Regions from separate parts of the Homo sapiens genome. Here region 2 is linked to region 1. The links come from fine-mapping of genetic effects on gene expression. A gene starts in region 1. The other region holds a variant in brackets. All regions are shown on one strand. Distances are from middle to middle.

Region 1 (4,000 bases):
CCCACACCCTGCCAGGCCTAGGCCTGCTGTTGCGACTGAGTTTGTCTCTACACCTTTACTCTCTTCGGCCCTTGCAACTCTTTCCCTTTTTCTGCCCACCTTTGTGAAATGGCTAAGCAGGAAACTCCACAGATAAACGATTGTCCAGTTTTAGTTTGAACTGTTAGGACTGAAAATTGTTCTGTATTTTTCTGTCAAAAAAAGACCAACTTTAGTATGCTCTTTTCACCTTCTCAAAATTGTCTTGTAGTTAAACACTGTAGTTGAGCCTTTATATCTCTCAATTTTATGTTTTGTTTTGTTGAGGAAGCATCTCACTGTTGCCCAGACTGGCACCATCATAGCTCACTGCAGCCTCAATCTCCCAGCTCAAGAAATCCTCCCACCTCAGCCTCCTGAGTAGTTGGGACTATAGATGTGTGGCACCAAGCCCAGCTTGTTTTTTTGTAGCGACGGGGGTCTCACTATGCTGCCCAGGCTGGTCAAGCAATCCTCCCGCCTCGGCCTCCCAAGGTGCTACTGTGAGCCACTGCGCCGGGCCCAGTTCTATGTTTAAAATACTTCCTTCTCAACCTTATTTATTTTTAGAGTTGATGGCCACACCTAAATATTCCTCCTTTCTTATACAATACCAGTCTTTATCTTCATTGTCTCACTACTTCGGGGACTGAATGGTCTCCTATTTTATTGTTAACATGCCATATCCTTCAAAACTGTACATCCTCCAAGGTGTGGTTAATTTCTGCTTTTAACAGGAAAATCAGAGGCCTGCCTGCTTGAGTCCCCCTTCAAGTACTCAGTATTTGAGTGTCTACTAAGTTATAACAGTTAACGCACAAAATTCTAGTCCTCATGTTGTTTATACTCAGGTATTTATTGGGAGACACGCGTCAGTAGTCCCTGATAAATGGAAAGATCGCTTGAGTCCAGGAGTTCCAGTCCAGCCTAGAATAGGTAAAACATGCTCTCTGAATTAGTCTTTGAAACTGGTAAACTAGCTCAGAAGTTTTTTTAAGAATTCCATGAGTGGTTTGCTGGTGTACGTTTATTATATGCAGTGAAAGTACTTAATCTGCAAACCACCCCAAATTAAGCCCCTAACTCGCAAGCACAAAATGGACTCGATTATTTACTGAGTTATCAGTTGGCCTTGTCCTTAGTTGTACAGGGACTAATGACTCACCTATAAATAATGGGCTCTTCTAAGAAGACACAGTTGAGTTGACACCTCTTTGTCCTATAGCTGGGAGGAACGCATTGCAAACGCCAACCCAATGATTCCCTAAATGGGGTCTTCGCATCAGCTGCGTTAAAATCACCCCAGCAGGCAGGTTATCCGGCCGCCACTCCAGGGTCATTAAATCAGACTCTCCAGTGGGACCTCGGAATTCGTAGCTTAGCAAGCTCCCCAAGTGATGCTGGGAGTAAACTAACGTTTGAGAGTCACAAACATGTTTTGGCAATATAACCAGATGGGACTGGAGAAATTAAAAAATGAGAAACATCCCTAAAAAAGCAAGACTAAGCTGCGTGGGAGGCCAAACGAGGGGGGTCCTTTGGGCTGTTTCTACCATGACAAAAATCGCCATTACCCCACACCTCTCACACCGCCAACGTTCCGCCAACGTTCCGCCAACGTCCCACCACCCTCATGATATCCGTCCGCGGTACTGCTCCAGCGAAGGTACCCTTGCCTGGGCCATGAGGCGCAACCGTCCCTCACAGCTGGGGTGGCTTCTCCAGGTTCGCACCGAGGGGAAGTTGGGGTACCGGTTTCCGCCGCCAGCACCCAAGATGGCGGCACGAGCGTCGCAACCACAAGAACCACATGCTTCGTGTCCCGCCTCAGCATTCTCGGGTCTCACTAGACTTTTGCAAGTCACTGTGGGAACCCTCAAGGCGAGGGTGTTCCGCACTCTGGCGGCGATACACCTTCCTATTCCCTGACCTAGGCCTTCATTCCCCCGCCACAGAAAGCGCTGGAAGCGCCCAACCTGGATACTTCACCCAACGCCCAAGCCCACTAACATCGCCCGCCGCGAAGGCGCGGCCGAGGGGCCCAGAATGCCAGACACTAGGGCCTTCGCCCTCCTCATTGGTGGGTCCATACCGCGGGGCGGGCCTAGGTACTCATTGGGCCGGGAATTATGTCAGTCTTGGGAAATCAGGTCCGGGGATGAGGAGGTACACTCAGCCATTGGGCCCTCTCTGCTGCCAATCAGAGGGACATCCGTCGACGGCCCCGGCCTCGGCTCGTTGATTGGAGAAACTGTTCCTAGGGTGTTTGCGGCGGGCGGGTTTCCGAGTGCGGTAGCAGGAGGGGGCGGGGAGGTAAGCGGAGGCTCCGAGCTCTAGGCCGGCCGGCGGTGGCGGCGGCGAGGCCGGGACTCGGGCTTAGGGCCTGCTGTGGAGGCAGCGGCGGACGCCGAGCTAAGCAGTGGGTATCGGGCACATTCCTTTCCCAGAAGGGAGGGTTGCAGCGCCGCGGGGCCGAGGCTTATGGGGCGACGGGATGGTGCTGAGGTGCAGGAGGCGGGGGCCGAGCGGGGTTCCCGCCAGAGCCCGGCCCTGGGCCTGACAGGGAGGGGCCCCGCGCGGGGCCGAGAGGAAAGCTGGCTCCGGGGTGGGATGGACTGGGCAGGGTTGAGGGCACGAGAAGGCGTGGTGTGAGGCCTGGACTTGGGAGTGGGGTGGGGCCATCGGGACGGAGGGCGGGGTGGGGTTTGCTGTAAGGGTGGGTCAAGGCCAGGGAAGTAGCACTTGTTCGCTGGCCGCCCCTGGAGGCTAGAAGCTCCGGCGCCGAGAGTGGGCATGGCGACTTGGTCTCAGCCGGACTCGGGTATCCGGGCAGGGTGGGACCAGCCTCAGGCTATGGGCCCTGCACCTACTTGATTTTTAAGGGACTTTGTCCGGTTCCTCGAACTTAATTGGCTCCTGGGAGGTTTTAGTAATAAATTGCGTGAGAACGGGAGGGTAGCGTAAGCAGGAATTCTGGGTCGCAATTGTGTTTACTCTGACCAGAGAGAGGGAGTGTGAGTGTGTGTGTGTGCGCACGTTCGTGTGTGTACGTATAGCTCGCTCTCCCCCTGTAGAATGAAGTTGGTAGATGGGTCACAACGCAGGAGAGGAGAGGCGGTATGTCTTGGTTTGTGACATTAATGGAAGCTCAAAAGTGGAGACCAGAAACAGATTTACTTCCTCTGCACTGGGCAGTCTGGCTAGAGAACGTGGCCATATCCTTCTGCTTTGGCTCAGAAGGTCATATGAATGAAAATAAAACCTGCCTATGCAAATTCTGGACGGAATAGTCCTGCGTAGTAGGGCCCCCACCATCCCTCTCCTTTTTTTCTTTCCTTTTCTTTTCTTTCTTTTTTTTCTTTTTTTGAGACGGAGTTTTGCTCTTGTTGCCCAGGCTGGAGTGCAGTGGCGCGATATCGGCCCACCACAACCTCCGTTTCCTGGGTTCAAGCGATTCTCCTGTCTCAGCCTCCCGAGTAGCTGGGATTACAGGCATGCGCCACCACGCCCGGCTAATTTTTGTATTTTTAGTTGAGATGGGGTTTCTCCATGTTGTTCAGGCTGGTCTCAAACTCCCGACCTCGGGTGATCCGCCCTCCTCGGCCTCCCGAAGTGCTGGGATTACAGGCGTCGGCCCTTTTCCTTTTTTTTCTTTTGTAAGTTGTGAGGATAGGAAAGGGAAATCAGATTTCAAAGTTCAGAAAACAAAAGGCATTCTTCTTCTGGGTGAAGTGGTGGCCTGAACATTGTCCTTTTGTCCTTCCACACTCTCACTGTTTAATAATCTTGCCTTTTTGAACTGAGAAAAGACAACTGTTATGGGTGGTTTTCTCCCGAGGGGTGAAAATCCAGCTTTACTTTTAAGACAGGAAATGGGCTTCTCATGTGAAAATAGAAGCTGGGTAATGCGCCTGTAGTGGGGGAGGAGGGCTGGTAAATAAAACAAAGGTGTAAGATATTTTGGATGACCTGGTTATTGTCT
Region 2 (4,000 bases), 83 kb after region 1:
TGTAATCCCAGCACTTTGGGAGGCTGAGGCAGGTGGATCACGAGGTTAGGAGTTCAAGACCAGCCTGGCCAAGATGGTGAAACGCTGTCTCTGCTAAAAATACAAAAATTAGCCGGGCATGGTGGTGGGCACCTGTAATCCCAGCTACTCAGGAGGCTGAGGCAGAGATCGCATCACTGCACTCCAGCCTGGGTGACAGAGGGGAGAGTAGGTCTCAAAAAAAAAAAAAATCAAACAGGAGGGAGGGCACCTTGTCAACCCCACCTTTGACACTACTCTAGTTGAAAACAAAATCAACCCGGGTTTAGGGAATGAGACTTAATAGGAATTCTCACCTCTTTCCCATTTTTTATTCACCATCAAGAAAGATATAGTTGGCTTTGAATTAAATACAGATTTCTAAGAGATATACCAGGCCATCATATGGAAAAATTTAATATTGAGGTAATTGCAAAACAATATCTATGCTATTTTGCTATGTGGATGACAGGGAAAACACACTAGAAAAACGTATTTTTAATGAAATGTAGCTGAAATGTTGCTTTCGGAGCATTTAGTATTCTTGGATACCAGCTTGGACAATTCAGGCCAAACTGTACCAGCCCCAGGTTAGATTATCGACTGGGAGTCAGTACTTTCTGTGTCAATGATTATACATTTACTTCTTAAATTTAGGATTTTAGCTTTTAAATTTTCTTTTTACATAAAATCAAGGAAAAAAGCCTTTCATCTCCACTGCTCTCCTATTTCACTTGCCAGAACAATTGGTAGTGATTAAGAAGCCGTCCTACATATAATGTGGTTAGTTAAGCGGTCTAATGCCCCAGTTATCCAGTTAGTGGCAGGCAGTGAGGTGGGGATTTGGTTAGTAGAGCCAAACAGAGGAGCGGTAATCTAATTAGCCTGTTGCCATCTGAGGCCGTTGGCTAAGATGGGGGCTAACTGGGTGTGGAGCAGTTTTGCTGGGTGAGGTTTAGTTTCCAACGCTGTAGGAATCTGCTGCTTCCAAAAAGTCTCCTTTAGAACTATCCCCTAGCAGAGAATGTCCATCAGCCTGTAGATTGTCTCATCAACACATCAAACATGCTCTACCCAACCCCTGCCGCGCTTTTTTTTTTTTTTTTTTGCATATAACAATGTCAGAGACAGCCAGAACTACAGACCAGATTTCCAATGAGGTAATTTGTTTATATACTTTAGGACCAACCTAATTTCTTTTTCTGCTGAGTTTCACAGCTAGAAGGGCCAGAGATCTGAGTGTGGTCCCTACGGTGGGGTGTGTGGCGGTACCCAAAGACCTTTGCAGTTTGGCAAGTGGTTGTTTCCTCTTGGAAAACAGGTATAGAAGGGACATTTTATTTTAAATGCTGGAAGCCAATGGCCATATGATTTAGAGAGCATTGAACTCTGTAGGGAGTGAAGAAGTTACCTTTTTCTTTTCTTTTTTTTCTTTTTTTCCTGCTCTGTCGCCAGGCTGGTGTGCAGTGGTGTGATCTTGGCTCACTGCAACCTCCGCCTCCCAGGTTCAAGCGATTCTCGTGCCTCAGCCTCCTTAGTAGCTGGAATTACAAGCATGCGCCACCACACCTGGCCAATTTTTGTATTTTTAGTAGAGACAGGGTTTCATCATGTTGGCCAGGATGGTCTTGATTTCTTGACCTCGTGATCCACCCACCTTGGCCTCCCAAAGTGCTGGGATTACAGGCGTGAGCCACCACACCCAGCTGACCTTTTCCTTTTTCAGCCTCATCCTGTCCCAGATCCCGGCCCTTTCTCTTCTGGTATCCCCTTTTCTGATGTCTTTCAGCCACAGAGTGGTGGCACGATGATATTCTGGCCTCTTAGCCACCCAGCTTTTCAGATTTGGGTCCCTGGGTCTCCAGGGAAGGATGGGCGGGGGATGGAGGAGTGGGGGAGAGGTGGGTGGCAGAGGAGGAGTATAGAAGGGTTTGTGTTTGCTCCCTCTGTTAAACACTTTAGAATATTGCCCATTGTCCTTTCCTGTGGGATGGGATTGGTGCAAAGGCTCCTAAAACTGGAGGCAGTTGGTTCTCTTTGGTTCACCTGCTCATATGCTGCCACCTAGTGGTTCCTTCTCCTTTAGC[A/T]CTCTGTGTGAAGGGTAGGGGGACGTTAAGGACACTACTATATTGCCTTTATCTCACTTGGGTTTTTTTTTCCTCCTAAACCTAAAATTTCCCCTTTTCATTCCATGCAGTTATCCATCATACACAAAACTGTTTTCTTCTTTTTACTCTTGGATCAGATAATCTGGAAATGAATAGTTGGTATAAGATCTATGTTTTTTTGAGTAAGTTAGAGCCCACTAACATCCCTGTTTGCCCCCTGGTTTCTCTTTTGTGATGTGAGATGGGCGTCTTACTCCAGTGCTGCAACATGTTCATTACAGAGGAGAGGCAGGCTACCACCAAGCCAGGGCTTCTCTGAACAGGGATTTCTTTTTTCTTTCTTTTTTTTTTTTTTTGAGACGGAGTCTCACTCTGTCGCCCAGACTGGAATGCAGTGGCGCGAACTCGGCTCACCGCAACCTCCGCCTCCCGGGTTCAAGCGATTCTCCTGTCTCAGCCTCCCGAGTAGCTGGGATTACAGGTGCATGCCACCATGCCCGGCTAATTTTTGTATTTTTAGTAGAGATGAGGTTTCACCATGTTGGCCAGGCTGGTCTCAAACTCCTGACCTCGTGATCTGCCCGTCTCGGCCTCCCAAAGTGCTGGGATTACAGGCGTGAGTCACTGCACCCGGCCAGTTGCCTGTCTTTCAAAATTTCTCCTGTAGAGAAATCAGGCAATAATAGCAGCTACCCTTATTGAACAGTTATTATGTGCCAGGCATTGTTCCAAGTACCATTACACATGTTAAATCATTTAATCTTCCTAATCACCTAATGATACAGTGAATAGAGTATATCCCTTCTAAGGTGAGGAAACTGAGGCATAAATGGTCAAATAACTTGCTCCAGAGAGCACAGTAGACAGGGAACTGAGATTTATTCCCAGGCTGTCTGGTTGCAGATGTTATGCTGTTAATCACTATGTTTTGCTGCCTCTTAATATGCAGGTAACCTGAGTGCTAGGTACAGACAACAGGAAAGGGAAACAGGGAGCCCTGTATCCATACTTGAGCCCTCCTCAGAGCATTTCCTCAGCCCCTACCTGGGAGGTGTTGTAGTGGAGGACACATGGGTTGTTAACTAACCCGAGGCCTGAAGAGGAACTCTTCAATGTGCTGACTCCAAGGCCTTGCTTCTGGTTCTGTCTCATTTTGGAGATTCAGCACATAGGAAAAAAACCAAGTAGCTGGGTGGGAGTGGTGGCTCATGTCTGTAATCCCAGCACTTTCGGAGGCTGAGGCGGGTGGATCACTTGAGCTAAGGAGTTTGAGAGTAGCCGGGCCAACATGGTGAAACCCCGTCTCTATAAAAATACAAAAATTGGCTGGGTGCAGTGGCTCAGCCACCCTGTAATCCCAGCACTTTGGGAGGCCGTGGTGGGTGGATCACTTGAGGTCAGGAGTTCAAGACCAGCCTGACCAACATGGTGAAACCCCGTCTCTACTAAAAATACAAAAATTAGCTGGGTGTGGTGATGCACGCCTGTAATCCCAGCTACTCGGGCGGCTGAGGCAGGAGAATAACTTGAACCGGGGACGGGGAGGTTGCAGTGAGCCAAGATTGCGCCACTGCACTCCAGCCTGGGAAACAGAGTCGAGACTCCATCTCAAAAACAAACAAACAAACAAAAAACCAAAAATCAGCCAGGTGTAGTGGTGGGCGCCTGTAATCCCAGTTACTCGGGAGTCTTAAGCAGAATTGTTTGAACTCAGGAGGTGGAGGTTGCAGTGAGCCAAGATTATGCCACTGCACTCCAGCCTGGGCAACAGAGCAAGACTCTGTCTCAGAAAAAAAAAAAAAGACAAAAAATAAACAATAGACGTGGATTCCAGAGAAGATTCTGCTCTGAAAGACAATTCCAAGTCTCCTTTT

What was found. PIP is the estimated chance that this variant, and not a neighbour inherited with it, causes the effect. A credible set is the group of variants that fine-mapping cannot tell apart.
Region 2: its variant is the best candidate, but not a certain one, in a credible set for the expression of NFE2L1 in blood mononuclear cells (TOPMed, PIP 0.63).

The regions. Positions count from the first base shown.
Region 1 is chr17:48,046,026-48,050,025 of GRCh38, forward strand. NFE2L1 (NFE2 like bZIP transcription factor 1) reads left to right here and starts at 2,334. Exons shown (of 6, transcript NM_003204.3): 1 at 2,334-2,437. It overlaps NFE2L1-DT (NFE2L1 divergent transcript), which reads right to left and starts at 2,028. Exons shown (of 2, transcript NR_170231.1): 1 at 1,600-2,028; 2 at 856-945. It also overlaps a transcript of COPZ2 not described here. RefSeq lists enhancers at 1,106-1,709, 1,554-1,743, 1,710-2,311, 1,814-2,053, 2,312-2,913 and a silencer at 2,464-2,743.
Region 2 is chr17:48,129,326-48,133,325 of GRCh38, forward strand. No RefSeq gene overlaps it. Among named protein-coding and RNA genes, the nearest start is that of SNX11, 24 kb to the left of the region's middle. The variant A/T (reference allele first, on the strand shown) is at 2,106.